Linked DNA regions of Homo sapiens. The protein of the gene in region 1 interacts with the protein of each later gene in a pairwise test. Each region holds a gene or a part of one and is shown in the gene's direction. Other genes may lie near its edges. The genes, in order: FBXW2 and GCM1.

Region 1 (12,649 bases):
TGCAGTGGCGTGATCTCGGCTCACTGCAAGCTCCGCCTCCTGGGTTCACGCCATTCTCCTGCCTCAGCCTCCCGACTAGCTGGGACTACAGGCACCCACCACCATGCCAGGGGAATTTTTTGTATTTTTAGTAGAGATGGGGTTTCACTGTGTTAGCCAGGATGATCTCGATCTCCTGACCTCGTGATCCGGCCGAGCCCACCTCAGTCTCACAAAGTGCTGTGATTACAGGCGTGAGCCACTGTGCCCAGCCTGGTGTGTGTTTTTAATTGACCAGTATTAATTAACTAGCTATTGTGACAATATGCAGATGCCCACAGAAGATAATTGCTTTGTCTTGTTGCAAATTATTATTTTTTAGAAGTAGAGATTTTGAAGAAATGTTGTATAGATAAGAGGGTTGTTAGGATTTAGAGGAAGGAGGGGGCTTGTTATTGCGTGATAAGTCGATAAAACTTTTAGCCATCTGATTATTTTTTGTCAGCTAGGTAAATTTTTAATACAGATTAATAAATCTTCTCTAGCCCAAACTTTGGCTTGAAACGTATTATCTTGAAGTCTAGTCACAGTTCCAGAAATCAAAACTGTTAGCAGATGATGTGATTGCAAGGTTTGGTTGCTTCTACTAATAAATCAGATTGCTTATTTGTCTAAGAATGTTATTGCCAAATTTGATATTGGACACTTACAATTTTACTCACCTTACATTATCAAAGTTGAAAGATGAGATCTTGCTTTTTGTGTAGACCTGATCTAGGTGATATGTCTGGAAAGAAATTAACTTTCCTTTTTCACATTAATTTGGACATATGTTTTTAAAATTAATATGACAGTCTTGTGAGAAACTGAGTATTCAGAAGGAAAGTTTTTATTAAACCATGGAAATATTTAAATATATGGAAATAAAGAGAATAATAAATCCCTATGTACACATCACCCAGCATTAACATCTATCAACACATAGTCTTGAGAAAGATAGTTTTTACTGGTTATATTTTTTGTAATCTTTCATTAGTCTAATCCTCATTAAGAGTGAATTAACACCTGTTGACACTAATACAGGATACTTTAAAAAAAATTATTTGTTACAGTTAGCTCAGGAGCAATTTGTCATTCTCCTAAAGGAGAAAATGGTCTAACGGGTAGACACACTACCTCCAGATCTTACCACTTGGTCGTGGTTCTCCTGGTTGTCACTTATTTTAGAGAGAGAGCTTGGTACCTGATCTTGAGAGCACTGGCGTCCAGTCTGTTCTGTGGCTATTTAGTAGCCCTGTGAATATAGGCAAATCACATACCTTCTCTAACCTGTAGTTTCCTCATTTGCAAAGTGAAGATGATAATGTCTATTTTCTGGTGTTTTATAAACATCAGGATTATTAATTTGCTTTATTTGTGCAGGCCTCCAGGACCCCTCATGGCTCTCGGGGGCACGTGGTTAAGAGTTGTCACTAGCTCATATGAGGTTTAGAAAAACAGACTAAAGCCACATAAGTTCTTTTATAATTCATGTTCTAAACAGGCAGTGCCATAAAGAAGTTGGAAGAACCAGAATTCCTGAGGCAGATAACTTACCACACCTGCTTTTCTTCCCTAAACCTTTTCATCTGAACATCTGTTGCAAAACCAAGTAGTCAGTTCTATGATTTTGGTGACAGGTTGTGCCTGCCATGACAATCAGTGTCTCAGGTTACTGCTCAGGAGACTGTTTCTGATTGTCACATCCTGGTGCTTGCTTTTGTGATTTTAGTACCCAAATAGAATGTATTAAGGAATTCATTAAGGAAATTGTTTTATAATGGTTTTGATGGGGGAAGGGTGTATTGTAAAATATACTGTTTTATAATGAATTGTTGGTAAATCTATTACTATGAAGATGCATGTAGCACGTGCTAGACTTCAAGAGGAATAAGTCACACACGCCAGTCTGTTTCACTGACATGTTTTGGATTCATGATTTGTTAAAGTATGTTTTCTCAAATGTGTTTTCTTTTGTGTGCATGGAAAGTGTTCAGATAAATATGGTGTATTAACTGTAAAGTTGTAATGTAACTACGCATAAAGTTGTAATGGCAGATTTTTTACACTAATTTTTAATACTTCATTTGTTAGCAGTCTTGCTTGAACAGTCTTTTTGAGCAGAACTAATACAATATTTTGATGTGCCACAGGTAAATTTTTCCATAACCTTATGGAGAGAAAGGACTTTGAGACATGGCTTGATAACATTTCTGTTACATTTCTTTCTCTGACGGACTTGCAGAAAAATGAAACTCTGGATCACCTGATTAGTCTGAGTGGGGCAGTCCAGCTCAGGCATCTCTCCAATAACCTAGAGACTCTCCTCAAGCGGGACTTCCTCAAACTCCTTCCCCTGGAGCTCAGTTTTTATTTGTTAAAATGGCTCGATCCTCAGACTTTACTCACATGCTGCCTCGTCTCTAAACAGTGGAATAAGGTGATAAGTGCCTGTACAGAGGTGTGGCAGACTGCATGTAAAAATTTGGGCTGGCAGATAGATGATTCTGTTCAGGACGCTTTGCACTGGAAGAAGGTTTATTTGAAGGCTATTTTGAGAATGAAGCAACTGGAGGACCATGAAGCCTTTGAAACCTCGTCATTAATTGGACACAGTGCCAGAGTGTATGCACTTTACTACAAAGATGGACTTCTCTGTACAGGTAAGAGATGTTGAAACTGCTTTTTGGGTTTTGTTTTGTATTTCATAGGGTGTAATCTTGAACCAGTCTTGAGCTTTGAGAATGACAAGTGTTGATTATATGAGATATGTACAGTGACTTTTTTTCTCTAATCCTGAGTGGTTCCCCCCCCTTATCCTCTTCCTTCTCTCTAGAGAACACAATCATTTTTATAAAATTTTATGAGAAAAACACTTCAGACTGTCTTTTAAACATTATGTGAATTACAAAGCTATAGATTACTTTTTCTTTGTGTTTCCTCCATGTGTAGTCCTCTGTTGCTAAATTCTGTTTCTTTTTCTGTTGGCACTGATATTTGAGGAAAAAAACAGTGGAAAAATTGGTATCTAATCCTAGCAAGTAGTTAGATCATTATGGCCAAATTACTTAACCTCTCTGTATCTTTAAAATATGGGAAAGGAGGTCGGGCGCAGTGGCTCATGCCTGTAATTCTAGCACTTTGGGAAGCCGAGGCGGGTGGATTGCCTGAGCTCAGGAGTTCGAGACCAGACTGGTCAACATGGTGAAATCCCGTCTCTACTGAAATACGAAAAAGTAGCCGGGCGTGGCGGCATGCGCCTATAATCCCAGCTACTCGGGAGGCTGAAACAGGAGAATCGCTTGAACCCGGGAGGCGGAGGTTCCAGTGAGCTGAGATGGTGCCACTGCACTCCAGCCTGGGTGACAGAGTGAGACTCCATCTCAAAATAAATATATATGTATATATGAAAGGAGATATTTCTTCCTTGCTCTGAAATCCTGTGATTCTAAGTAGAAGAAGTAGAAGTTGGAGTTTGGGCCTGGGAACAGAGAGAGCTGGATATTTTTTAACTAGGCAATTAAGTAATTTTATGAAACAATATAATTATTAAAAATTTAAAATTATATGTTATTTTCCATTTGTAATGGACGTGTGTTTCTGTATATGATTATAACTAATGCCCATGTGTTAGATAATACATTTTGACAGGCAATGTAAATAATTCTTAGGCAGCATTTAGAATAACTCCAGGCAGTTCTTGCTAATAATCCCAATGCCTGTTTCCTTACATTGTATATAATATATAGAAATACTTGGTGTTCTTTTTCATCCAAGATAACTTCCAATAAACATTTGTGTATTACGGTATAAACTGTTCCTTTTTGTAAATATATCAATAGTCATTATTTAGCCATTTCCATATTAATGCATATATTAGTCCATTCTCAGACTGCTAAAAAAACTGCCTAAGACCGGGTAATTTATGAAGAAAAGAGGTTTAATTGACTCCTAGTTCCACATGGCTGGGGAGGCCTCAGGAAACTTACAATCATGTCAGAAGGCAATATGATCATGGCGGAAGGCGAAGGGGAAGCAAGCACCTTGTTCACAAGGCAGCAGGAGAGAGAGAGTGTGAGTGAAGCAGGAAGAGGCCCTTATAAAACCATCAGGTCTGGAGAGAACTCACTCACTATCATGAGAACAGCATGGGGGGCCACCCCCATGATCCAGTCACCTCCCACCAAGTCTGTCCCTCAATACCTGGGGATTACAGTTCAGGATGAGGTTTGGGTGAGGACACAAAGCTTAACCATATCAATGCATATTCAGATTGTTTCTGTTTTTATTAGTGTCTTTGTATTACCTCTTTTTCCCTTGAATTCATTTGGGATAGAAGTCTAAAAGTAGAATCACCAGATACAGAAGTATGAATTATTTTATAGCTCTTTTTTTTTTTTTTTTTTTTTTTTTGAGATGGAGTCTCACTCTGTCACCCAGGTTGGAGTGCAGTGGTGCAATCTCGGCTCACTGCAACCTCTGCCTCCAGGGTTCGAGTCTCCTGCCTCAGCCTCCCGAGTAGCTGGGATTACAGGTGTGCGCCACCACACCCGGCTAATTTTTTTTGTATTTTTAGTAGAGGCGGAGTTTCACCTTGTTGCCCAGGCTGGTCTCAAACTCCTGACCTCAGGTGATCCACCCTCCAAAGTGTTGGGATTACAGGCGTGAGCCACCGTGCCCGGCCCAATTTTATAGCTCTTCTTAGTGCCCTTTCCAGATAGATTGAATTGATGCCATACCAATATAGTGTTAAGTAACTTGCTTCTCCCTCAGGAGTCTCACCAGACTCAATTTAAATATTTTTAATGTTGAGATGTATCATTTCTCAAGACCGTTTTACAATGCATTTCTTTATTCATTAAGGGTATGTATTATGTGGTGATATTTTCTCTGAAATGCTAGACACTCTGCTGGTTTTGGAAAATAAACATTTGATTTAAAGCATTTCATGGTTTGGTTTGTCATCCTGAAGTTATTTCACACTTTATTTTCCTTGTGTTACAAGCCTGATTACTAGAACAACATCACCAGTTCTTCTAGGCTTTGATGTACTTTCTCTGTTGTGGTGATGGCTTTTCCATGTCTCTTTTGCCTCATGATTTTAAAAGATTAAGATGCAGTTGACCAAATGAGGGGGCTCATGCCTGTAGTCCCAACACTTTGGGAGGCCAAGGCAGGCAGATTATGTGAGCCCAGGAGTTTTGAGACCAGCCTGGGCAACATAGCAAAATCCCATCTCTACAAAAAAATAAAAAAACAGCTGGGTGTGCTGGCTCACACCTGTGGTCCCAACTACTTGGGAGACTGAGGTGAGAGGATCGCTTGAGCCCAGGAGGTGGAGGTTGCAGTGAGCTAAGATTGTGCCACTGCACTCCAGCCTGGGCAACACAGCAAAACCCTGTCTCAAAAAAAAAAAAAATATTAAGATGCAGTATCATCTTGGAGCTTGGAGCTCCTACTGGCAGTTGACCATTTTTTCACAACCACCTGTAGCATTTTTTTTTTTTTTTTTGAAACAGGAGCTCCTCTGTCACCCGGGCTAGAGTGCAGTGGCGCAGTCTCGGCTCACTGCAACCTCCTCCTCCTGGGTTCAAGCGATTCTCTCGCCTCAGCTTCCTCAGTAGCTGGCATTACAGGCACGCGCCACCACAGCCCGGCTAATTTTTGTATTTTTAGTAGAGAAGGGGTTTCACCATGTTGGTCAGGCTGGTCTCAAACTCCTGATCTCAGATGATCTGCCTGCCTCGGCCTCCCAAAGTGCTGGGATTACAGGTGTGAGGCACTGCACCCAGCCGCATTTTTTTTTTTTCTTTTTTGGAGACAACCTCTCACTGGGTAGCTCCATCCTGGAGTGCAATGATGTGATCTTGGCTTTCTTCAACCTCCACCTCCTGGGCTCAGGTGATCCTCCCATGTCAGCCTCCCGGGTTTAGCTGGGACTACAAGCGAGCAACCCTATGCCTGGATCCTTTTTGTATTTTTTGTAGAGACAGGATTTCACCATGTTGCCCAGGCTGGTCTCGAACTCCTGGGCTCAAGCACTCCGCCCGTCTCAGCCTCCCAAAATGCTAGGATTACTGGTGTGAGCCACTATGCCTAGGTCCTCTTGCTTTAAAAAGTTTTTTTCTTCTCTCATCAAACCTTATTTTTGAAATGTAGTAAAAACTGCAGTTACTTGGAGTGGAAGTAAATGGGAAATATTCACTGAATTCTCTAACTACCTGGAAAGTTAATATCTACAATTCTACATTTTAAGATTATTCTCTTGGTGGGTCTGTATGTTAATGTGATTTTTATTCTGATTAAATTCATCAGGTTTGCATATTTAAAATTACGCTGTGCAGTGGTTGAAAATGATCCAAAGTATTAGTTTAATTTTTCTAACAGCAGCATCCCTGGAACTGTGAAGAGAGGTATTTGTGACAGAATTGTACATGTGTTTGTGTCATCTTGTTACTTAAGAGATTGAATTCTCATTGTGGTGGAATTGGGAAACCCTGAATTTGGCAATAAACTTAGTGACTCTCACATTAGTGCCTTGAGTAAGCAATAGACAGTTTTATTGAAGAGATTAATGGCTAATGACATTGAGGTAGTTATCTTTCTCTTTCGCAATTTATTTCTGAAATGGTAAGAAAGGAATCTATTATGCTTTGTGCTGTTCAGTAGATATTTACTTATGGGATGCCTACTGTTTGAAAAACAATGTGAGGGCATACACGGATGAATTAGAGCAGTTTTTTCTTGTGGAACATACACACTGGGACCAGGAAGATGACCTGACTGAGGTAAAAGTCTCTGTGTGGACTATAGCAAATCAAGAACACTTGCCTTTCTAAAGAGTGCAGCTGGTGCTCCATTGTAATAAATTATTGCCATGTGGGTGGGATTCAGGGTCAGAGTTGTTAGATCTGACTTCAAGAGAAGCCTGAAATCTAGAGTTCTGTGCAATAGTCTGATTTTTTTTAAAGTATTATTAAGATTTTTAAGATACTGAATGGGGAGGGATTTTTTTCTTTCGTGCAGTGTGAGAGTCCACATTTCTTTAGTCCTCTTTCACCTCTATGCTGCATCACTGGTGACCTCTTTGAAAACATGTTGGGTTAGCCAGTGCAGCAAATGGGAGTCCAGAGGGGAGGCTGACATAAAGCCAGAAAGGAGCAGAGAACAGTGATTCCTAAAGGATTCTCAGGAGTAGACTTGCATCACTATAAATGGAACTCGACTCAACCTGATTATTATTATTTTTTTTTAGGGTGTAAAACTGGCACAATGTTTTCCTATAAAAACTAGTTTAAATAATTAGTTTGGATAACCTTTTTTTTTGCAAATTGTGCGAAAACATACATAACATAAAATTTACCATTTTAATCATTTTAAAGCATACAGTTGAGTGCCATTAAGTACATTACGTTGTTGTGCAGTCATCACCACTATCCATTTCCAGAACTTTACATCTTCCCAAACTAAAATGGTATCAGTTAAACACTATACAGTGTTAACTGTATAAACAGTATATAATACACTATATAGTTAAACTGTATCCAATTTTTTTGTTTGTTTTTGGGGGGGTTTTCTTTTGAGATAAGGTCTCACTCTGTAGCCCAGGTTGGAGTGGTTGGAGTACAGTGACATGATCTTGGCTCACTGTAACTTCTACCTCCTGGACTCAAGCGATTCTTCCACTTTGGCCTCCCAAGTAGCTGGGACTACGTGTGTGTGCCACCATGCCCAGCTAATTTTTGTATTTTTTATGGAGATGGGGTCTCACCATGTTTCCCAGGATGATCTCTAACTCCTGGGCTTAAGCACTCTTCTTGCCTCAGCTTCCTGAAGTGTTGGGATTACAGGCATGAGCCACCATGTCCAGCCTAAACCCTGTCAGTTAAACATTGCCCATGCCCCTTCCCCCACAGCCTGTGGCAAAACAACCATTCTGCTTGCTTGCTTGTTTTATTTTTTTTTTTGAGACAGAGTCTCAATTTGGTGCCCAGGCTGGAGTGCAGTGGCTCAATTTTGGCTCACTGCAACCTCACCTCCCAGGTTCAAGCGATTATCCTGCCTCAGCCTCCCGAGTAGCTGGGATTACAGGCATGCGCCACCGTGTCTGGCTAATTTTTGTATTTTTAGTACAGACGGGGTTTCAACGTGTTGGCCAGGCTGGTCTCAAACTCCTGACCTCAGGTGAACCAGCCTCGGCCTCCCAAAGTTCTGGGATTACAGGCATGAGCCACCATGCCTGGCCCACCATTCTACTTTCTATGAATTTGACTACTCTAGGAACCTAATATAAGTGGAATCATACAGTATTTGTTCTTTTGTGGCTGGCTTAGTTCACTTAGCATGATGTCTTCAAGGTTCTTCCATATCATAACATCTCAGAATTTTATTCTTTTTTTTTTTTTTTTGAGACGGAGTTTTGCACTTGTTGCCCAGGCTGGAGTGCAGTGGCGCCATCTTGGCTCACCGCAACCTCCGCCTCCCGGGTTCAAGCAATTCTTCTGTCTTAGCCTCCCAAGTAGCTGGGATTACAGGCGTGCGCCACCACGCCTGGCTAATTTTTGTATTTTTATTAGAGATGGGATTTCTCCACGTTGGTAAGGCAGGTCTCAAACTCCTGACCTCAGGTGATCCTCCCGCCTCGGCCTCCCAAAGTGTTGGGATTACAGGTGTGAGCCACCACACCCGGCCAATTTTATTCCTTTTTAAGGCTGAATAACTCCATTCCATGTATGTATATATGTGTGTGTGTGTATGTGTGTGTGTGTGTGTGTGTGTGTGTGTGTGTGTGTGTGTATGTATATAAAATATATTCCATGTATGTGTCACATTTTGTTTGTCCTCTCCCCTGGTTTTTAACTGCCTTCTTGCCTCTAGTTTTCCCCCCTTCAAACCTTTTTCCATGATATAGCCATAGTGATCTTTCTGATATGCAAATAAGGTCATAGTTAAACAACCTCCTAACCCAGTTCTGCAGCCAAACCTTGCCACTATTTCGCAGTCAGACTGAACTGTTTTCATAATCAGTGTTCATGTTTTAGGCAGTGCTTTTGACAAGCATTGTAAATAACTCCTAGACGGTTTTTTGAATGATTCCAAATAGTTCTTTATGACTTGATCCCAGTTCCTTTTCAATAATTTTTGTGTTGCATATAGAGATATTTAATAGTTGCTTTAATAGGTATATACCAGGGATTGGCAAACTGTGGACTGTGGGCCAAATCCAGCAGAAGAGAGTAATTGCAACTCAATAGGTCAACGTCTAAAATACTTACTATCAGGCCCTTTACAGAAAAAGTTTTGGTATATACTATTCCTTTTGTTTTGTTTTGGCCTGGCTAACTTATTCATCCTTAGGTTTAAATTAGTTAAAACTTAAAGGTTTTTTTTTTTTTGCCATGATATTCTTTCTTGAAACAGTCCTATACCAAAGCCCAGCTTAAAAACAAAAGAGGAGTGTAGTTGAAGAACCAATCATGCCAGTTCCTAAGGCACGTGTTATAGAGCATGGTCATAAATTCAGTGGAGCCTCGTCTGAGATGTTTTCTCTTCTTGTCCTCTCCTTGTATTTGCTATGGGCTTTTGTAGTGCCTGCCAGCTACTATACTGAATTATTATTGCTTGTTTAGCCTTTTTGTCTTCCCAAGTAGACTGAGTGCCATGAGAACAAGAATCCTGCCTGACACAGAAGTTCTATAAATATATGTTGAATGAATGAATGAGACCCCAGTTGAACACTGGTAACCAAAACCAAGCTCATAAAGGACCTAAAATGATTTCCTTTCCTACTCTAGCTCCTTAGGAATACAGTCACAACATGCCTGAACTGAAGGCCTTAAAGACTATCTAGGCTTACGCTCTCCGGTACAGTAGCCACTAGCGCCATGTGGTTTTTGAGTACTTGAGCTGTGGCTAGTCCAAATGGAGGTGTGAAATACTGGGTTTCAAAGACATACAATGTAAAAGAATATAAAATATCTCAATATTTGTATTGATTACATGTTCAAATGACATTTTTGACATACTGAGTTAAACACATTTAATTATTTTAACACATTTTCTTTTTTTTTTTTTTTTGAAACAGAGTCTTCCTCTGTTGCCCAGGCTGGAGTGCAGTGGTGTGATCTTGGCTCACTACAACCTCCTCCCGGGTTCAAGTGATTCTCCTGCCTCAGCCTCCTGAGTAGCTGGGACTACAGGCGTACGCCATCATGCCTGGCTAATTTTTGTATTTTTTTTAGTGGAGACAGGGTTTCACCATGTTGGCTAACATTTCTTTTTTTTTTTTTTTTCTTTGAGGTGGAGGCCCTCTGTAGTCCAAGCTGGAATGCAGTGGCGTGATCTCAGCTCATTGCAACCTCTGCCTCCCCAGCTCAAGCGATTCTCATGCCTCAGCCTTCCGAGTAGCTGGGAATATAGGCGCGCCATCATGCCCGGCTGATTTTTTTTATTTTAGTAGAGACAGGGTTTCGCGATGGTCTTGAACTCCTGAGCTCAGGCAATATGCCTGCCTTGGCCTCCTAAAGTGCTGAGATTACAGGCATGAGCCACTGCGCCCGGCCCAACATTTCTTTTTTAATGTAACTATTAGGACATTTTAAATTATATCTGCAGTTTGCATTATATTTTCTGTTGGATAGCACCGTTCTAGACCATTGGCTCTCAAAATATTGCTGATGAGTTAGAATCACCTGGCAAACTTTTAAGATTATTGGACCCTGCCTCAGATGTTCCCCAAGTTAAACTCTCTGAAAATAGGGACCTGCCTGTGTGTTTTGATAAAGTTGTATCACATGGCCATTGAGAACCAACCAAGTCCTACCCCTCTTTTTATACAGAAGGAAACAGTCTAAATAGCAAAGTGACAATAAATACAGTCTTTATTTCAGTATGCTATCATAGTTTTCCCAGGTTAAAATTCATACTCTAGCTCTTTCATAAGTGATGGCTATTTTTCCATTGTCTCAAACAGTGGTTCTTGACTGAAGGTAGAATTGTGGCTGGCTTTAGTCATTTCAGCTTTTTAAAAACTGGTCATTTGGTGCTTTCCTAGGATACTGTGCCATTATCATAGTGACTGTATTTAGTGGATTCTCAAAAATGTCTTTTTATTTGTTGAGGCTTATTGAAGGGTCATTGTAAGAATGAATTAATCATTAGGATTTTAAACTTAAAGCAAAGTCCTGAATTGTCACCATGATTAGTATAGAATTTTCATCAGAGGCAGAAATAAAGCCAACTTTTCCCTTCAGAATCTTAAGAGGCTTTACAAACTTTTTGTTGAGTTGTGAATATCTGGGGATAATTTATCCCAGGTTTTCCTTGAGGTTTCTTCCTTCACGTATTTCAAGATGACTGGAGCAATTAGCAGTTAGCTTTTGCAGAAGTTAGCCCAGGCTCTGAGGTTTGTCCTTGACTTGCCTTAGAGTGGAATATATTTCAGCAAACACCTTTACTATTTAACAATCCTTATTTGTTCAGAACTGTTGGGTAATGGACAAGCATGCAAGTGTAAACATGCAGTCATGTGTAATACCTATTTATTTGAAGTCAAATCAGAGAGCTCGTGATAGCCAAGGATTTATGAAATTTTTCAAGTGGAAGCACCAAGGGATGCTTTTAGTCTAATGACCTTCTGTAGCCTGAAAAGTTAAGGGAAAGTGTCTCACCCAAAAAGCTTGGATTCTGTCCTAGTGCTTTTGACTCCGTTTTGGTGACTCTAAGCAAGTTGTGTTACTCTCTCCGTGCTTTGATTTCTTCAGTGGTAAAGTAAAGTGCTAGAGGAAGGGACCGTTAATGTTCTTGAAGAACACCATGATTTTGGGATTGATTTTCCTTCTTTAGTGTGTTTGTTTTCTTATTAACCTCCCTGTTTTTCTCTTGAAGGGTCAGATGACTTGTCTGCAAAGCTGTGGGATGTGAGCACAGGGCAGTGCGTTTATGGCATCCAGACCCACACTTGTGCAGCGGTGAAGTTTGATGAACAGAAGCTTGTGACAGGCTCCTTTGACAACACTGTGGCTTGCTGGGAATGGAGTTCCGGAGCCAGGACCCAGCACTTTCGGGGGCACACGGGGGCGGGTGGGTTGCCCTTTTTCAAGGGTTTTTACAACTTAGCCTCATCCTTTTAAGCCAGGAGCCAAGAATGTGAAATGCTTTTTTTTTTTTAATTTAACCTGCTTTTTTCAACCCTCTTTCTTAGTCATTGCAGTTATTTCCCTTTATTCTAGTTACTCTTATTTCGAATGTTTTACCCAGTTTTGCTTTTTCTTGCTTTCTTCTATGTGTGTACCCTTCTGGTGGGAAGGGTAGTTTTCATTCTCTCTCTGTTTCTCTCTCTCTCTCTCATTCTCTCTCTCCCCCCTCCTGTTTCATTTATATCCTATTGAACAGACAGTCCCTTGGCTTTTATCAGATTCCATACCTCTGAACTGAGTAAATCCTACTTGTGTAAATTCCACTTTATTTGTAGCATTAGGGCTGAAAGTTCTTTGGTGTGACGGTGGTTCTTAGATTGTGTGGTCTACACAGATTACATCCAGTTTGAGCTTGGTTGACAGTTGATTAAAACAAGCTACCACCTAGAGATAAGGCGAAAGAAACATACCTGAATGTTTCCTAATAAATGTAT
Region 2 (16,364 bases), on another chromosome or scaffold:
AAAAATGAAAGTGTTTGCAGCTACCCATGACATTAAACTGAGAAATGTATAGCAAAAAATGCACATTTGGTTTTAGAAATGTATTTATAGTTCATTAAAAAGTACTAAGATTGCTCACGGAAATAGCTGTCTTCCAATTTGTTAAATATGTCGGGGAAATGATTTAAAATGCAAATATTCCTTAGTATTTTCTGAGTAGAGAGAATACCATCCTCGTCTGGGTTTAATGCTAGCTTTGTCATCAGACCAAGAAACACTTGAGCTCTTGGAAAGATTTCCAGACATTAGATTTTATATTGTTTATATTGTGTGAGCATATCCAGAGACAGAGGGGTGTATTATGAAAAGTACAGGACTTGGAGAAAAATGCCCCAGATTTGAATTCTAGTTCCATCTCCTTTTTTTTTTTTTTTTTTTTTTTTTTTTTTTTTGGAGATCCTTGAGTTGTTTACCTTTTCTGAAACTTCCTTTCCTCTCTGAAAATGAGGGGGTTGCGCCAAATGGTCTGGTATGTACCTATTAGTTCTAATAGTCTAGAATTCTAGAAATGTCAGCCTTGTGCCTAGCACAGTGCCTGACGTGTATGAAACAACAAATGTTGAATATGGAATTCATTAATGAATGGCTCCATTGTTTAGAATCTGTGTGAGCCTGGAGAAATTGATTTTCTTAAGTCTTAGTTACCTCCTGTAGAATGAAAATAGGAATTCTCCACATATCCTGCCTCAGTCTCTAAGATGTTTAGAATAGTGTTCCCTAAATATATTCTGTAGAGTACAAGTTACATGGAATTTTAATAGGTACTGTGAAGAAAGAAAAAGAGCAATACGAAGTTCAACAAGGATAAACAGATTTCTTGACTGCAGGCTTGGAGTCTTTTTCACCATCCTGTGCATTGGTGGCTCTCCGAAGGAGGCTGTATTAGGCAGTATTACCCCAACTTATTTTTGACCATGAAACTTTTTTCCTGAAGCCCTTCAGGGGTTGATGTTCCCCAGACTACCTTTTTTGGCATTTAACAAATGTGGTTTAAAGGATCAAATGCAATGGCTTGTTATGATTATAAATTTCTCTAATTTCACTCTCTGTCCCATCGATCTAGATCATTTATAGTTTATATTTCATAATTTTATATTCTTGCCAGAATTATTAGTTATACAACACGTAGGAAAATTCCTTTTCTGTTTATCCTTTCACATGCTTCAAGTTTCAAGTTTCTTTCTCTCTCCTTCCTTCCTTCTTTCTTTCTTTTTCTTTCTGTTTTTTTTTTTTTTTTTTTTTTTTTTTTTTTTTTTTTTTTTCAGGGTCTCACTCTCATTACCCAAGCTGGAGTGCAGTGGCGCAATCATAGCTCACCACAGCCTTGAATTCCCGGGCTTAGGTGATTCTCTCAACCCAGCCTCTAGAATAGTGGGGACTACAGGCGTGCACCCCACACCCAACTAATTATTTGTCTTTTTAGTAGAGATGGGGTTTTGCCATGTTGCCCAGGCTGGTCTCGAACCCCAGGACTCAAGAGTTCTGCCCACCTTGGCCTCCCAAAATACTAGGATCACAGGCATGAACCATTGCACCCGGGCTTCAAGTTTCTTTCTTTCTTTCTTTCTTTCTTTTTCAGACAGAGTCTCGCTCTGCTGCCCAGGCTGGAGTGCAGTAGCACTATCTCGGCTCACTGCAAGCTCCACCTCCCGGGTTCACACCATTCTCCTGCCTCAGCCTCCCAAGTAGCTGGGACTACTTGCACCTGCCACCGTGTCCGGCTAATTTTTTGTATTTTTAGTAGAGACAGGGTTTCACCGTGTTAGCCAGGATGGTCTCGATCTCCCGACCTCGTGATCCACCCACCTTGGCCTCCCAAAGTGCTGGGATTACAGGTGTGAGCCACCGCACCCGGCCCTTCAAGTTTCAAAATGATTACCCAAATACCAGTTGCATCTTCTGGTCTGAGAAACTCCATGTGTCTTTAACTAGTTCAGATACATCAAGGTTTATGGGTTAATTTTGACAACAGTGAGCAGTGATGTCCTTACTAAGATATCAGACATTTTTGAGAAACTTAAATGCAGGAGACACTGTAGTAGGCTCAGGGATACTGGGGCCATTAAGCTATGTTAACTTCTGTGGAAATGCTCATGATCTTCTGGGCTAGTGGAACAAGATTACTGCCTAAATAGAGAATCAATGCCATGTAGAAAAATGCTAGAGGAGTTTGAAAGGAGTGTGCAGTTCAACATGACTCTGGCATGGGGAGCAAGGCCAGAAGAGTTTGTGTAAGGTTAGAGGAAAAAAAAATTAGATCAACCATCTATTATTTATGTCATTATTTGTACTTGGAAAGGTGAAATCTAATTGCTTTAAGGTTTGCTTGATCCAAGCAGCAAAAGTCTGGTGTTGATTTAGTCTTGATTTAAAATGTGGATTACATGGTCCTGGAGAGTGTCACACTCTCATTAGTACTGATTGTAATACTTGAGAGAACTTTGAATCTCTAAGAATTATTTTCTTCTGGTTGAAAATTGGGAAGAAATTCAGTTCCTTTTTCTCTTAAATAGTACCCATTTCACTAGCAAGAGGAGAATATCCACTCTGTTTCAAATACCAGCCAGTTTCTCTCAGTTCAGGTTGTGCCAATAGCACCACAGCCAGCAAACACCCTGGATCATTTTGTTCCTACACACTGAGCAGTTTGCAAATTAAACCCATGGCCAAAGCCACCCCAAGCCATTAACTCACAAAATTACAAGGTTTAAGTACTTTTTTTTTTTTTTTTTGGTAGAGAGAACATTCTCTAGTATAGAATAGTAAAGTCAACTGCAAAGGGGCCACAGTTCTGATTAGTTCATTCCTGGACTATGATTTTAGCCAGCCAAACTTCCTTTGTCTCTGCAAAAGATAAGCCCCAAATTGTGATCAAACATGAATATTTGAGCTCTCTCTGTGAATCCATGTGGCCACATGTAATCAGAACAAGCCAGTTGTAGTACTCAGATGTGTCTTGGTGCTAGGGAGCTAACAGGTAAACCAGATTGTGGATTTCTTGTCAATTATTATCCCCTGTATGAGCAGGTCACGTTGTCATTGTTCTGATGGGGATTCCTGTGACTTTGCCCCCTTTGCCAGACATTCTCCTTGACCTCAAGGGTCATTTGAACTTCCCTGAGAGCTCTACCTATATGGGCTCCCATGATCACTGGGGCCTCTGCTATTTGGACCAGAATTCTTCTGCCACTCTGTGCTTCTGGTGTGATACAGATAGGAGCATTATTGCATCTGCTGGTACCCTGCAGCAGGTCCCTTGCTTAGCTGGGTGGAGGGAAAAGGGAAGCGAAAAGAGAAGACAGACGGGGTTTGAAAGCTGAGGTAACTTGGCATAACTTAGTGTTTTCAGAGTAAATAAGGAACTTTGTCCTGAGTCTTATTTTATTTATTTATTTATTTTTTTAGACGGAGTCTCACTCTGTCGCCCAGGCTGGAGTGCAATGGTGTGATCCCAGCTCACTGCAACCTCTGCCTCCCGGGTTCAAGCGATTCTCCTGTCTCAGCCTCCCGTGTAGCTGGGACTACAGGCATGTGCCACCATGGCTGGCTAATTTTTGGTATTTTTAGTAGAGATGGGGTTTCAAGATCAGGATGTTCTTGATCTCCTGACCTCGTGATCTGCCCACCTCAGCTTCCCAAAGTGCCGGGATTACAGGCCTGAGCCACCGCGCCTGGCCTGTCCTGAGTCTTGATCTCTTGACTAAGAAATACCAGGATTAGTCTAAAGAGTAATCAGTAATTCCCCCTTTTTTTTTTTTTTTTTTTTTGAGATGGGGGTCTTACTATCTTGCCTAGGCTGGTCTTGAACTCCCGAGCTCAAGCAACCTTCTGCCTTAGCCTACTGGGTAGCTGGGATTACAGACATTCCCCACCATGCCTGCCCTAAGGAGTAATTCTTGAACAAACACAAAAGCATTTTGTTGAATTCAATTTTTTTCCTTGGTAACACTTGGAGTTTTATTTCCAGTTGGCCCAGAAGAGATAAGTTCCTGAAAAGTTGTATGTAAATCAAAACATTGGTTGAAGGTTTTTTTTCCTGTTTTCCATAATATCTGATTTTTGTACCTCTATATAATTTGCTTTAAAGTATGTTTGTTTGATATTCCTGTTCTATTTAGAAATATTTATTTATAAGTAATGAATAAGCTATTTATATAATTAATGAAAACCTGGAAGATATTTACTTTATGCAAGAGCAGACTATATTCCAAAAGAAAATCAATTTCATAATATGATCATATGATAATGTAGATATTTTTGATACTTTATTTCAGAATTTGTATTTTAATTGATTAGTTTTATATAACAATACATACTTCATTTCTTCAGATAACCTCTGAAAACTTCAAGTAGTTGAATAAGTTAGAATGAGGTGAGTATGAAGGGTGTTCTAGAAGTGCATAGAGCTACAAAAATTTTGATTGAGTTAGAGGATTAAATCTGTTAGTAAAAAATTATACCCAGAAGTCATAGAAATATCAGTTAACCCCCCAGTGATGTTACCCAGGAGATAATCAAATACAAATTAGCTAGGTCTACATGTTGGAAACCTCAGAAATATTCCCTTTCAATTATAAACTTCTTAACTAAGAGGAAAAACAAAGAGTTACTCATGAAAAGTTAGAAATTAAAACAAACAAAGGATCTAAAAAGAAGAAAGTATTTTGTGGGGATTCGCTAAACATGATGAAGAAATGATTATTGTTTCTTATTAAATTTTACTTCTCTGAGGTCTTGGTTTAACAGGTTTCAGAAATCACAGTCATCCATCTGACACTTGGGTTCCTCTGCATTATTGAGATCTGGGTTTTCTCTTAATTTCAGTGTAAAAAGACATCAAAGACCCTACTAAATGTCCAGGTCAAAGACTAGGCATGAATAAATGGCCCAGAGACTAGCTTGATGTGAGTATATTTACTCCTAGTAATGTTCTCAGTCCATACGTTGTCCAAATTATTACTGCTTTTTTTTTTTTTTTTTTTTTGAGACAAAGCACTCTGTCACCCAAGCTGGAGTGCAGCGGCATGATCTCGGCTCACTGCAATCTCTGCCTCCCAGGTTCAAGCGATTCTTTTGCCTCAGCCTCCTGAGTAACTGGGATAACAGGCATGTGCCACCATGCCTGGCTAATTTTTGTATTTTTGATAGAGATGGGGTTTCGCCATGTTAGCCAGTCTGGTCTTGAACTCCTGGCTTCAAGTGATCCACCCACCTTGGCCTCCCAAAGTGCTGGGATTACAGGGGTGAGCCACTGCACCTGGCCATTACTGCATTATTAATAGAACTGGAAAACTAAGGTACCAGTGGAGGGACTGTCAGAAAAAAGCTTAAAGGATGATAAAGATCATCTCTTCCTCTACAGGCAAGGAGTCTTTGCTTTAATCAGAACATCTGAGATGTTCTCACAAATACATTCCGCTCCTTCTGGTTCATGGGATCTATGGCTCTGACCAGCCTAAAGTGGCCACTCACCTTTAAAGCATGAAAATCTCAGCTTTCCTCTAAGTCTACCTTGCCCTCATCTCTGCTATCCTGACAACTGTGTTTTATACTGGAATAATTCAAGTGCACCAGTAGTTTTTTACAGTCCAATATTAGAGGAAAGTACACTCAAATTTTGTTTTGTTTTGTTTTTTTAGTAGAGACGTGGTCTCACTGTGTTGCCCAGGCTGGTCTTGAACTCCTGGACTCAAGCAATCCTCCAGCCTTGGCCTCCCAAAGTGCTGGGATTACAGGTGTGAGCCGCTATTCCTGGCCAAAAGTAGACATTTTAATGTTTTAACCTACATTATTATTTCAAAAGATAAAATACTCTATTATGCTTTCTATGGCATTTCTGTGACAGAAAACAAGACATCATTGTTTGCAGCTTTGGGCCAGAAGAAGGAAGGAAGGAAGGGAAGAGAAGGTGGGTGGAGAGAGCAGGAGGCATGCTGCCTGGGGAGCTTCTCTCACCCCGGGCATTGAGTCTCAGCAAGCCCAAAATTACCAGAGAATTGGGGAGGAGAGGGACAGTCTGGAAAAAGCAAATGGTCCAACCAGCATCCTGGCCTGGCCATCCGGGAATCTCTGCTGCAGCTGCCTGATGGACCACAGGGAACTTTTCCAGATGCCACCCTCCTATTATTTATACCCTTCCCCCTTCCCAAACCACAGTAGTTACAGCATAGCACACAAAGGGCTAGCCACTGTCATGCCCTGAGAAGGAAGGTTGTGGAACAAGAGGTGCACCAATTAAGCTTTTATTTTATAGGGACTTGGACTCTTTTTTCTTTTTTTTTTTATTGAAACAGAGTTTCACTCTTGTCGCCCAGGCTGGAGTGCAGTGGCATGATCTTGGCTCACTGCAACCTCCACCTCCCAGGTTCAAGAGATTCTCCTGTCTCGGCCTCCCAAGAAGCAAGGATTACTGGTGCCCGCCACCACACCTGGCTAATTTTTTGTATTTTTAGTAGAGACGGGGTTTTGCCATGTTGGGCAGGCTGGTCTCGAACTCCTGACCTCAGGTGATCCACCTGCCTCAGCCTCCCAACGTGCTGGGATTACAGGTGTGAGCCACTGCACCCAGCTGGGACTTGGACTCTTATCTTGCATTTGGCTTGGCAAGGTATGAAGCATGAAGTGACCTCTACTGGGTCTTCTCTCTCCCAAAAGCCAGTGACTCTTACAACCACATTGACTGGCTGAGGGCAGTTCCAGATCTGGTAGAATAACAGTTAACATTGAGGTGGAACCTGCTGCGTGTGAGGCACTATTTTAAGTGCATTGTGTATGTTAATTTAGTAAGTCCTCAAAACCTCCCTGTGGGGTACTCCTGTTACCCCATTTTACAGAGCAGGAAACAGAGGCACTGAGAAGAAAAGAATGTCATTAAGACTCATATCCAGAAAGACAGTGTACCTCCAGAGTCCAAGCTTACAGCCAGCAATCTCAGACTGTTTGTGAAGAGTCAGATAGTAAATATTGTAGTCTTTGTGGGCCATACAGTCTCTGCTGCGGTGGTGTAAAAACATCCATAGACAACACTTCAGTTAATGAACATAGATGTGTTCCTATAAAACTTTATTTACAAAAGCAGGCAATGGGCAGGATTTGGCCCATGGGCCCTAGTTTGCACACTGCAGCTCTTAACCACTAAACAGTACTACCCTGCATGTACCTAAAACCTCTCATTTATATTTCCTCAGACCACCTCAGGCCCCATGACATTCCATTCAACAAGTATCGTTATATGGAATCTATAGTTTACAACACATCTGCTCTTCACAGCACTTTTGTGAGGCAGTTTTAATCAATGTTTCAGTTTTAGAGAAGAGCAAAACAGGCTTTAAAGACAAAGTTACTTGCCCAGAGTCTCAAGTTACAAAGTTCTTTGGCACGTTCTAAATTTGAATTCTAACTCAGTAAATGCCCGTCAATCCTGACACTGACATTTACTTTTTTCTTCTAAAATTTGTCTTTTTTTTATGTTGTGGGCTGTGCTTTCTGGTTGGGAAAGCAAAGAAGAAGCAGCCTAGTCTTTTCTTCTGGACCTTCTAGAATCTTCTATTTTCACCTTCTAGAACCGTCTAGATGAAAAATGTTCTTACACCATGCTAAGTCTCTGAAAGCCGTAGGGCATGGGCACAGCCTAAGTTTGAGTGCTGACACTGCTTGCTGTTTCTCATTCTAAGAACAAGGAAGGGTCTGTCAAATGCAGCATCTGTGCACCAATGTAGGGCCTAGGAATATGAGCCACAGCATCAGTGACTAACAATTATTTAGAGCTTACAGCATGCTAGGTGCTGTGCTAAGTATTTAATATATATAATCATATTTAATCTTCAGAACAACTCTTCAGGTAGGCAGGTCTCATTATCCCTACATTACAGATGAAGAAACAGAGGCACAGAGAGCAAAATAATGTATGCTATAAGGACTGAGTGTCTGGTGTCCCTGGCCTTTCTTTAATTATTATTTTATTTTGGTCAAAAACACAACTTAAAATTTACCATCTTAACCATGTTTAAGTGCATAGTACAGTCGTGGTAACTATATGTACACTGTTGTGCAAAGGAGCTCTAGAACCTTTTCATCTTGCAAATGGAAACTTTGTCCGTTGAATGACAACTCTCCTTGTCTGTGATGTTTTAAAGGAGAGTTTAGTCAAATGTTCATACACAGGGCATAGCGCCAATCCTGGGCAATAACAGAGACGCTTTCAGTCAAAACAAGCTCTTTCTTACTCCCTTGTCATGTTTGAGGCACGTGAACGTAGGGTTAAAGATAAAGGAAGAAAATCTCTGGGGAAGAAAGTGGCTCTTTGATCTCTCTGAACCAGGGCTTTTCATCCCTCCCACTGCTTATCTCTGGCGACATTGCATAAACCTGTGTGACTCCCAGTAAGATAACCACAGAGTGGTACGAGACATTATCTCACTATCCCGCCACAATGTTTTCCACAGTTTATTTTGAGTTTTTAGAGAAGGGGTCTTGCTGTGTTGCCCAGGCTGGTCTTGAACCCCTGGCCTCAAGCCATCCTCCCACCTCAGCCTCCTGAGTTGCTAGGACTGCAGGCACACCCTACCACACTGGGCCCTGTTTTCTATAGTTATTGTGTAAGAGCATAGCATTACTTAACCTTCAAAAATTCCTACTGAGAAATGGTCATTTCTTGTGTCACTGAGGGCTAGGGAAGTGTCAATCAGATGGAACTCACAGGGGCTATCATTTATTTTGGTCCAGCGGCTGAATGCCTGACAGACACAGCACTCAGTTGCCACTGTTGTGCTGGGCTCGCTGATCCCACTGTCAGAATTAAATGTAGGGAGGCTTTTGCCAAAGGTCTCTTGCCCAGCTCCTGAATGCCAAAACATCCTTCCTATCTACTCACTCCACAGTGGGTGACAGCTGTGTTTTCTAGCTTAAAGTATAGTCGTATCTTTTGTGTTTCTATCAGAACGTGAAAAAAACCGACTGGTTCCAGGAGTGGCCAGATTCCTATGCCAAACACATCTACAGCTCGGAGGACAAGAATGCGCAGCGGCACCTGAGCAGCTGGGCCATGCGCAATACCAACAACCACAACTCCCGCATCCTCAAGAAGTCCTGCCTGGGTGTGGTGGTGTGCGGCCGCGACTGTCTCGCAGAGGAGGGGCGCAAGATCTACCTGAGACCTGCCATCTGTGACAAGGCCCGGCAGAAGCAGCAGCGTGAGTAGAGCTTAGTGGCACCAGCAAAAAAGCTGGCATCCCTCAGATGCCCCTGCCAGATGGGTCACTGTGTCCCAGCACCGCCCAAGGGCAAAACCATCACCCTGGAGTGTAGTGGCAGCCAAGGCTGTTCTGACATGGAGCATATGGAGCGGAACCAACCAGATCCCTTGTGCTCCAGCAAGGACCCCACATATCTGCCATACCCAGAGCACCCACCATCAAAAATGCCTCCTTGGGTTAAGGCACTGGACTGAAGGCTCCTGTTAAAGGGAAGATGGCAGGTGTGGTGGCTCACACCTGTAATCTCAGCACTTTGGGAGGCCAAGATGAGAGGATAAATTGAGGCCAGGTGTTCCAGACCAGCCGGGGCAACATAAGAAGACCCCAACCCCTACAAAAAAATTTAAAAATTAGTCGGGTGTGGTTGCATATGCCTGTGGTCACAGCTACTCCAGAGGCTGAGGCAGAAGGATTGCTTCAGCCTGGAAAGTCAAGGCTGCAGTGAGCCATAATGGAGCCACTGCACTCCAGGCCGCACAATAGAGTGAGATCCTATCTCCAAAAAGAAAGGAAAAATGGCCGGGCACTGTGGCTCATGCCTACAATCCCAGCACTTTGGGAGGCTGAGGTAGGCAGATCACCTGAGGTCAGGAGTTCAAGACCAGCCTGCCCAATATGGTGAAGACCCATCTCTACTAAAACACACAAACACACACACACACACACACACACACACATTTGCCGGGTGTGGTGGTGTGTGCCTGTAATCCCAGCTACTCGGGAGGCTGAGGCAGGAGAATCACTCGAACCCAGAAGGTGGAGGTTGCAGTGGGCCAATGTTGTGCCACTGCACTCCAGCCTGGGTGACAGACTCCATCCAAAAATAAAAGGAAAAATGTATCCCTTCAGGGGTTAATGTTAATTCATCAATGACCCATGTAAAATTTAGAAGAAAGTAGTTTATTGGACTTGCCACTGGACTTCTTGTGGGTCCCTAAGTGATCTCAATGTGTGCATTAATGTGGAGTGGCAGCTGTGAAAGGTTAGACTCAATTCCATTCATTTAGGTTCACATCATAATCACGTGCTGAGATATTTGTTCATTTTCTAAAACACATTCACTGGATTATGAAATAGATACATTCAGCATGCCCTGTACATTGCCCACTTCAAACCTCAAGTTACTTTATATTTTTCCCAGTAGTTTGTTTTAAAAACTTGCTCTTAGGTCAGGACCTGGTATCAGTCATTTACACCTCTGTGAAAATGTAGTAGCTGCATTCACTCTCCCATGTAGCTTGGCCCCTTGACCCTTAGTTCTAATTGTGAAGTGAAAGAACTTCTCTTTTTTATTTTTGAGACAGACTTTCACTCTGTCACCCAAGCTGGCATGCATTGGTGCCATCTCGGCTCACTGCAACCTCCACCTCCCAGGTTCAAGCGATTCTCCTGCCTCAGCCTCCCTAGTAGCTGGGACTACAGGTGTGCACCACCACGCCCAGCTAATTTTTGTATTTTTAGTAGAGATGGGATTTCACCATATTGGCCAGGCTAGTCTCGAGCTTCTGGCCTCAAGTGGATCCGCCTGCCTTGGCCTCCCAAAGTGCTGGGATTATGGGTGTGAGCCACTGTGCCTGGTCAGAATTTCAAATATCACTAAATAAGTAGGGAGGGGTTTTCTGCTCAGAAGAGCTCTGCCTTGACCTGTGAAATATCCTACTTGGTAGGCAACCACTTCCCCTATCCATGTGTGAGACCCATGTGGGCCATTTTAGTGGCCAGGCTTCTGAGGGTCAGGGGTAATATCTAGTGGATTTCAGCCCATGAAACTCTGCCCAGATTTATACTCTGCCGTCCTTGAGTCAGGGCTAAAATCTTCAAGACTGCACAGGAGTCAACAACCGACATGGTTCAGCCAGGTGTGGTCATTTTCCTCTGCTCTTTTGTAGGGAAACGCTGTCCCAACTGTGACGGGCCTCTGAAGCTCATCCCTTGCCGAGGTCATGGGGGCTTCCCGGTCACCAACTTCTGGAGGCACGACGGACGCTTTATATTTTTCCAGGTTGGATTTTTGAGTTAGTTACGTGAGAGTTTCATTACTGAGGAGTTTCACCAGAGGCTAGAAATGCACCTGTGAATGAGATCCTGCACCATCCCCGAGGGCTCACACTCTAAGAGAGCAAGTATCTGTCCCCTGCACTTCTAATAGATGTTTGAAGTGCTGGGGAGCTCTAGAAGGGGAGCTGCCTGTCTCTGCTTCTACTTCTCAGGAGAAGTGGCAGCTAATCTAGTCACACTGAGGTTAGCACAGTGCTTCTAAGCATGCCGCATGCTGCATGCTGCTGGTAGCCTTCAGCAAATCTGAGTTTGAACACCAGCTCTGACTTTTTACTCGGTCTTTAAACCTGAGCAGGTGATTTTCCTCTTCCACGTCCCAGTTTTCTGTAGAATGTGTAAGAGTACTAATGGGGCAGTGGCACCAACAGTGGTGAAGAATGGACCCTGACTCAGACTGCCTGGGTTTGAATTAGTGGGATGCTGGTAAACCAGCTCTCCAAAAAGAAAATGTCCTGATTTGTAGCATTTGCCAACTTCTGTAATGGAAATATTCTCACCGTGGCTGATTTCAAGCCAGCAGTCATTTTTAACAATCAGCCTACAAAATTCCTGAATGTTTAACTATTGACTCTCAGCTTTGGCCAGCTCCAGGTAGGGGAATCCTAGGTCCCTCACTTCTAGAGGAGGTTACCCAGCTGGCGTAATCACTCCATGCCTCAGTTTCCTGTTCTGTAAACTGGGGGTGATAATAATGGTGTGTACCTCAATGGTTGTGCTGAAGATGAAATGAGATATAAGGCACACAGGGTGTTTATTTGTGTCTGGCACATACCACAGGAAGCATTTAGTAAGTGTTACTTAGCACTGTGATTATGGCTTTGCTGGGTGGGTGAGAGGCAGGCAGGCAGGAGCATGGTGGGCTTGGGAGCGCCTTCAGAGGTTCATCCAGTCTGGTTACCATAGGCAACTGCAACACCACCCCCGGGGCAGGACACACAGTAAATAAAAACTGATACACCATGAAACACAGTCTAGTTAGTGTTATATCATTTCCTTTCTACTTCCTTGTCTCATTTAAGTCAAAGGGAGAGCATGATCATCCAAAACCAGAAACCAAGTTAGAAGCTGAGGCAAGAAGAGCCATGAAGAAAGTGAACACAGCACCTTCCTCCGTCTCATTGAGCCTGAAGGGGAGCACAGAGACCAGGGTAATCCTTCATTATGTATGTTCAATACATGCAGTAGCTTGCCACGCCTGTGCTGGGGGCGGTAGATTTCCTGGGTCCCTTGCTGACGCAGGAAAGCCAGAAATCATGGATTATCAGGCTCATCTACAAACAAGCATCTGCTAAAGAAATTAAATCTGAGGCTTTACTCTTACTTTCTACCATCTTTGTAGCATGCTGGGAACCATAAAGTCCATGTAATTGGAGAATCATCTTCCCTACTACAATTACAAAGAGAAACTTGAATTAGCACTTAACTTATATTTGGCAAGAACCAAAAACAATTGAAACAATCTCCACAAAATAGTAGCCTTATGCATTTCACCGCCTGCCCCCTCCCCGCCCTCCTGAATTTCCATACGTCCCCAAACAGATTGTTTTCTTAGCACACTCTACCAAGATGAAATAAGCAAGCAGTTTCCGAAAATGATAGCTGTCCCAGGGTGGCAATAGTGGAGTGGAGGCTACTCCCTATAGACAAACTGTGATGTGAAGTCCACTGCTTTATGGGCAGCAGATCATAGGTTTTTTTGCATTTGTCTGTTTAATATTGATAGTAGTTCCTATACTTTTTCTACTGTTCAAAGGTGCACATTTCTTTTTGGGAGAACAGAGATGGAACTGGTCCATCCCTAGAGGCTGTAAATGTACTTTATTTAAAAAAATTGTAATGTGGATCTGTTGTAGGGAAATGCAAGCCCCCCAAACCCAAATGGCTATTTCCTCATCCTTTCTCCCAGCCATGGGACAAGTCAAGTGGCATTTCAGTCTCTCATCCAATCTACCTGGTCACAGCCCTTTTTCTCTACCCCCTAAAAGTATCCCCTTAACAGCTAGTAGTTTTACCTAAACAAGAGCATAACTTAATTCTCAACCAGATCCTTTTTTTAACGATTAACTAAAGAACAATATACCTCCTCCATTTAGAAAAATAAATGAATGTACCACTCGTGTTCTAGAGGTCTGATTTATGGTTCAACAAAATTCCCACGAATTCAAAGAAAAATCTCTTGAGGAAAGGAAAAACTAAAAAACAATAGCAACCATGGTCTCTCACACTCCAACCAGCACTAAGAAATAGAATAGTCAAGGGAGGAAATGTTGAGAGACAGAGACCCTGGGAGTTGTGCTGAGTATAATATAAATCTTTGAAGTTATACTTTGATATTTTGTAAATAGTTCCTTATAAGTTTCTCAAAAAGGCAATTAGAGGCCAGGCACTGTGGCTTATGCCTCTAATCCCAGCACTTTGGGAGGCCAAGGCAGGTGGGTCACTTGAGGTCAGGAGTTCGAGACCAGCCTGGCCAACATGGCAAAACCCCATCTCTACTGAAAATACAAAAATTAGCTGGGCGTGGTGGCAGGCGCCTGTAATCCCAGCTATTGAGAGGCTGAGACATGAGAATTGCTTGAACCCGGGAGGCAGAGGTTGCAGTGAGCCAAGATCGTGCCACTGCGCTCCAGCCTGGCTGGGCAACAGAGCGAGACTCCATCTCAAAAAAAAAAAAAAAAGAATAAATAAAAAGCAATTAGGATATCAGATTTGTGTTTGAGTGTGAAACATCTTAAACACACTCATGTCTCTACTGAATGTAGGGAAATTTGGCTCTTACTGGTTAGCAAGCTTTAACATGGAAACAGAGGCAGCCTTTGCTTTTTTCAAGTGTTTCGTGGTTGTGGTCAAGCCGCTGCATGTGTTTGTGCGTCAAGTATTAATGTGTAAGGAATGAGGAAAATCTGATGGAGCTCTTATTTGTACAGAGTAACTCATGGGTGCCTATGGCAGTGGTTTTGATTTGCTTAACTTATTAACACGAGCATTTCACTTTCCTTTCCAGTCTCTTCCAGGTGAAACACAAAGTCAGGGGAGTTTACCTTTAACTTGGTCTTTCCAGGAAGGCGTCCAATTGCCTGGTAGTTACAGTGGACATTTAATAGCTAACACTCCTCAGCAGAACTCACTAAATGATTGCTTTTCCTTCTCCAAGAGTTATGGTCTGGGAGGAATCACAGATCTGACTGACCAGACTTCCACTGTGGACCCCATGAAGCTCTATGAAAAGCGCAAATTGTCCAGTAGCAGAACCTACAGTAGTGGAGACCTGCTTCCTCCTTCTGCCTCCGGAGTCTACTCTGATCATGGCGATCTACAAGCGTGGAGTAAAAATGCTGCTTTGGGGAGAAATCATCTTGCTGACAACTGTTATTCCAATTATCCTTTTCCTCTGACCAGCTGGCCTTGCAGCTTCTCTCCTTCCCAAAACTCTTCAGAACCCTTTTACCAGCAGCTTCCATTGGAGCCACCTGCAGCCAAAACTGGCTGTCCCCCATTATGGCCAAATCCAGCGGGTAATCTTTATGAAGAGAAAGTACATGTGGATTTTAACAGCTACGTCCAGTCTCCTGCATACCATTCACCTCAAGAAGACCCCTTTCTCTTCACCTACGCCTCTCATCCTCATCAGCAATATTCACTGCCAAGCAAGAGCAGCAAATGGGATTTTGAGGAAGAAATGACATACTTGGGTTTGGATCACTGCAACAATGATATGCTTCTGAACCTGTGTCCTTTGAGATGACCCAAATCTTTCACTATGTGCACCCCAGCCCCTCAAAAATGGGGAAGGGCTGAAAGAATTTCCTTAGGAAATAATTTTTAAAACATAACCACAGATAAATGAGAATCATGATAAGCAGTAGACAAGGCTTTTTTCTTTTTCTTTTTTCCTTCTTTTTTTTTTTTTTTTTTTTTTTTTGAGACAGAGTCTTGCTCTTTTGCCCAGGCAGGAATGCAGTGGCGCCATCTCGGCTCACTGCAACCTCTGCCTCCCGGGTTTGAGTGATTCTCCTGCGTCAGCCTCCCGAGTAGCTGGGATTACAGGCACCTGCCACTGCGCCTGGCTAATTTTTCTATTTTTAGTAGAGACAGGGTTTTGCCATGTTGGTCAGGCTGCTCTCAAACTCCTGATCTCAAGTGATCTGCCCACCTCACCATCCCAAAGTGCTGGGATTACAGGCGTGAGCCATTGTGCCCGGCTGACAAGGCTTTTTTCTTCACATGAGTAATTTTTTTGGCTTCTTCTCCTCCACTCTAGTATTTCCACCCTCAGTAAGGAATGGAAACCTGTCCCGTCTGGGGTGTGAAGTGCCCTCTGCTTTTTCCCCCACATTGTTTGGGGTTCCCAGCACCTCAGCCACATTGCATGCTGGGTTTTCATTGTCATTGTTGCAAATGAAATGGAGTAGACATGTGAAATGCTAACCTATCTAGGACCTGATCTATGCCTTCTTGGGAACTGAGAATGAAGAAACAGAAATAGATGGTGGAAGAACTGCCTAAGGTGTGAAAAGCTGAAGATTCTACCACTGAAGTACTGAATATGTTGTCTAGTTGTGAGACTAGTGTGTAAAATATATGTTTTCTAGATGATTTCTGAGACTTGTGATGACAAGGAACCTGACCTAACCCCATTTTTCATAAAGACAAAGAACAGCAATGTTAAATTGCCATATGAAGAGAAACACTAGTGATGTGCGTGGTCTCCTTGCCTCTTGTTTCCTTCCCTCTTCCTCACTGACTTCCCCTTGCACAGGGGCTTCTGTTTTATCCCATTTATTATTTGTGGCACCTATATCAATGTGGGGTTTGTAATAGGTGAGAAATATTTGCTTGGAGAAGCTCTTGTGCAATTAGCCTGGCAATGATTGGCCGGCCATGTTTGAATGCCAGTTTCTCTTCTTTGCTGAAGTACTTTATGATAAAAGTAAGCCTAGACATAAAATCTGGAGAGAACCATGCAATAAACAAGTATTTTTGAAATAAATTATTCCTTCTCCTTTATTAGAA

What was found.
Region 2: the proteins of FBXW2 (region 1) and GCM1 interact in binary tests that used the Homo sapiens proteins (3 or more experiments, as listed by UniProt).

Annotation. Positions count from the first base shown.
Region 1 is NC_000009.12:120,777,801-120,790,449, reverse strand, and holds part of FBXW2 (F-box/WD repeat-containing protein 2), read left to right. Parts: intron 1-2,171; coding exon of another isoform or gene 2,172-2,191; coding exon 2,192-2,681; intron 2,682-11,904; coding exon 11,905-12,099; intron 12,100-12,649. UniProt on the Homo sapiens protein: Substrate-recognition component of the SCF (SKP1-CUL1-F-box protein)-type E3 ubiquitin ligase complex.
Region 2 is NC_000006.12:53,126,938-53,143,301, reverse strand, and holds the end of GCM1 (chorion-specific transcription factor GCMa), read left to right. Parts: intron 1-8,977; coding exon 8,978-9,230; intron 9,231-11,182; coding exon 11,183-11,295; intron 11,296-12,370; coding exon 12,371-12,499; intron 12,500-14,355; coding exon 14,356-15,096; 3' UTR 15,097-16,341; downstream 16,342-16,364. UniProt on the Homo sapiens protein: Transcription factor involved in the control of expression of placental growth factor (PGF) and other placenta-specific genes. Binds to the trophoblast-specific element 2 (TSE2) of the aromatase gene enhancer. Binds to the SYDE1 promoter.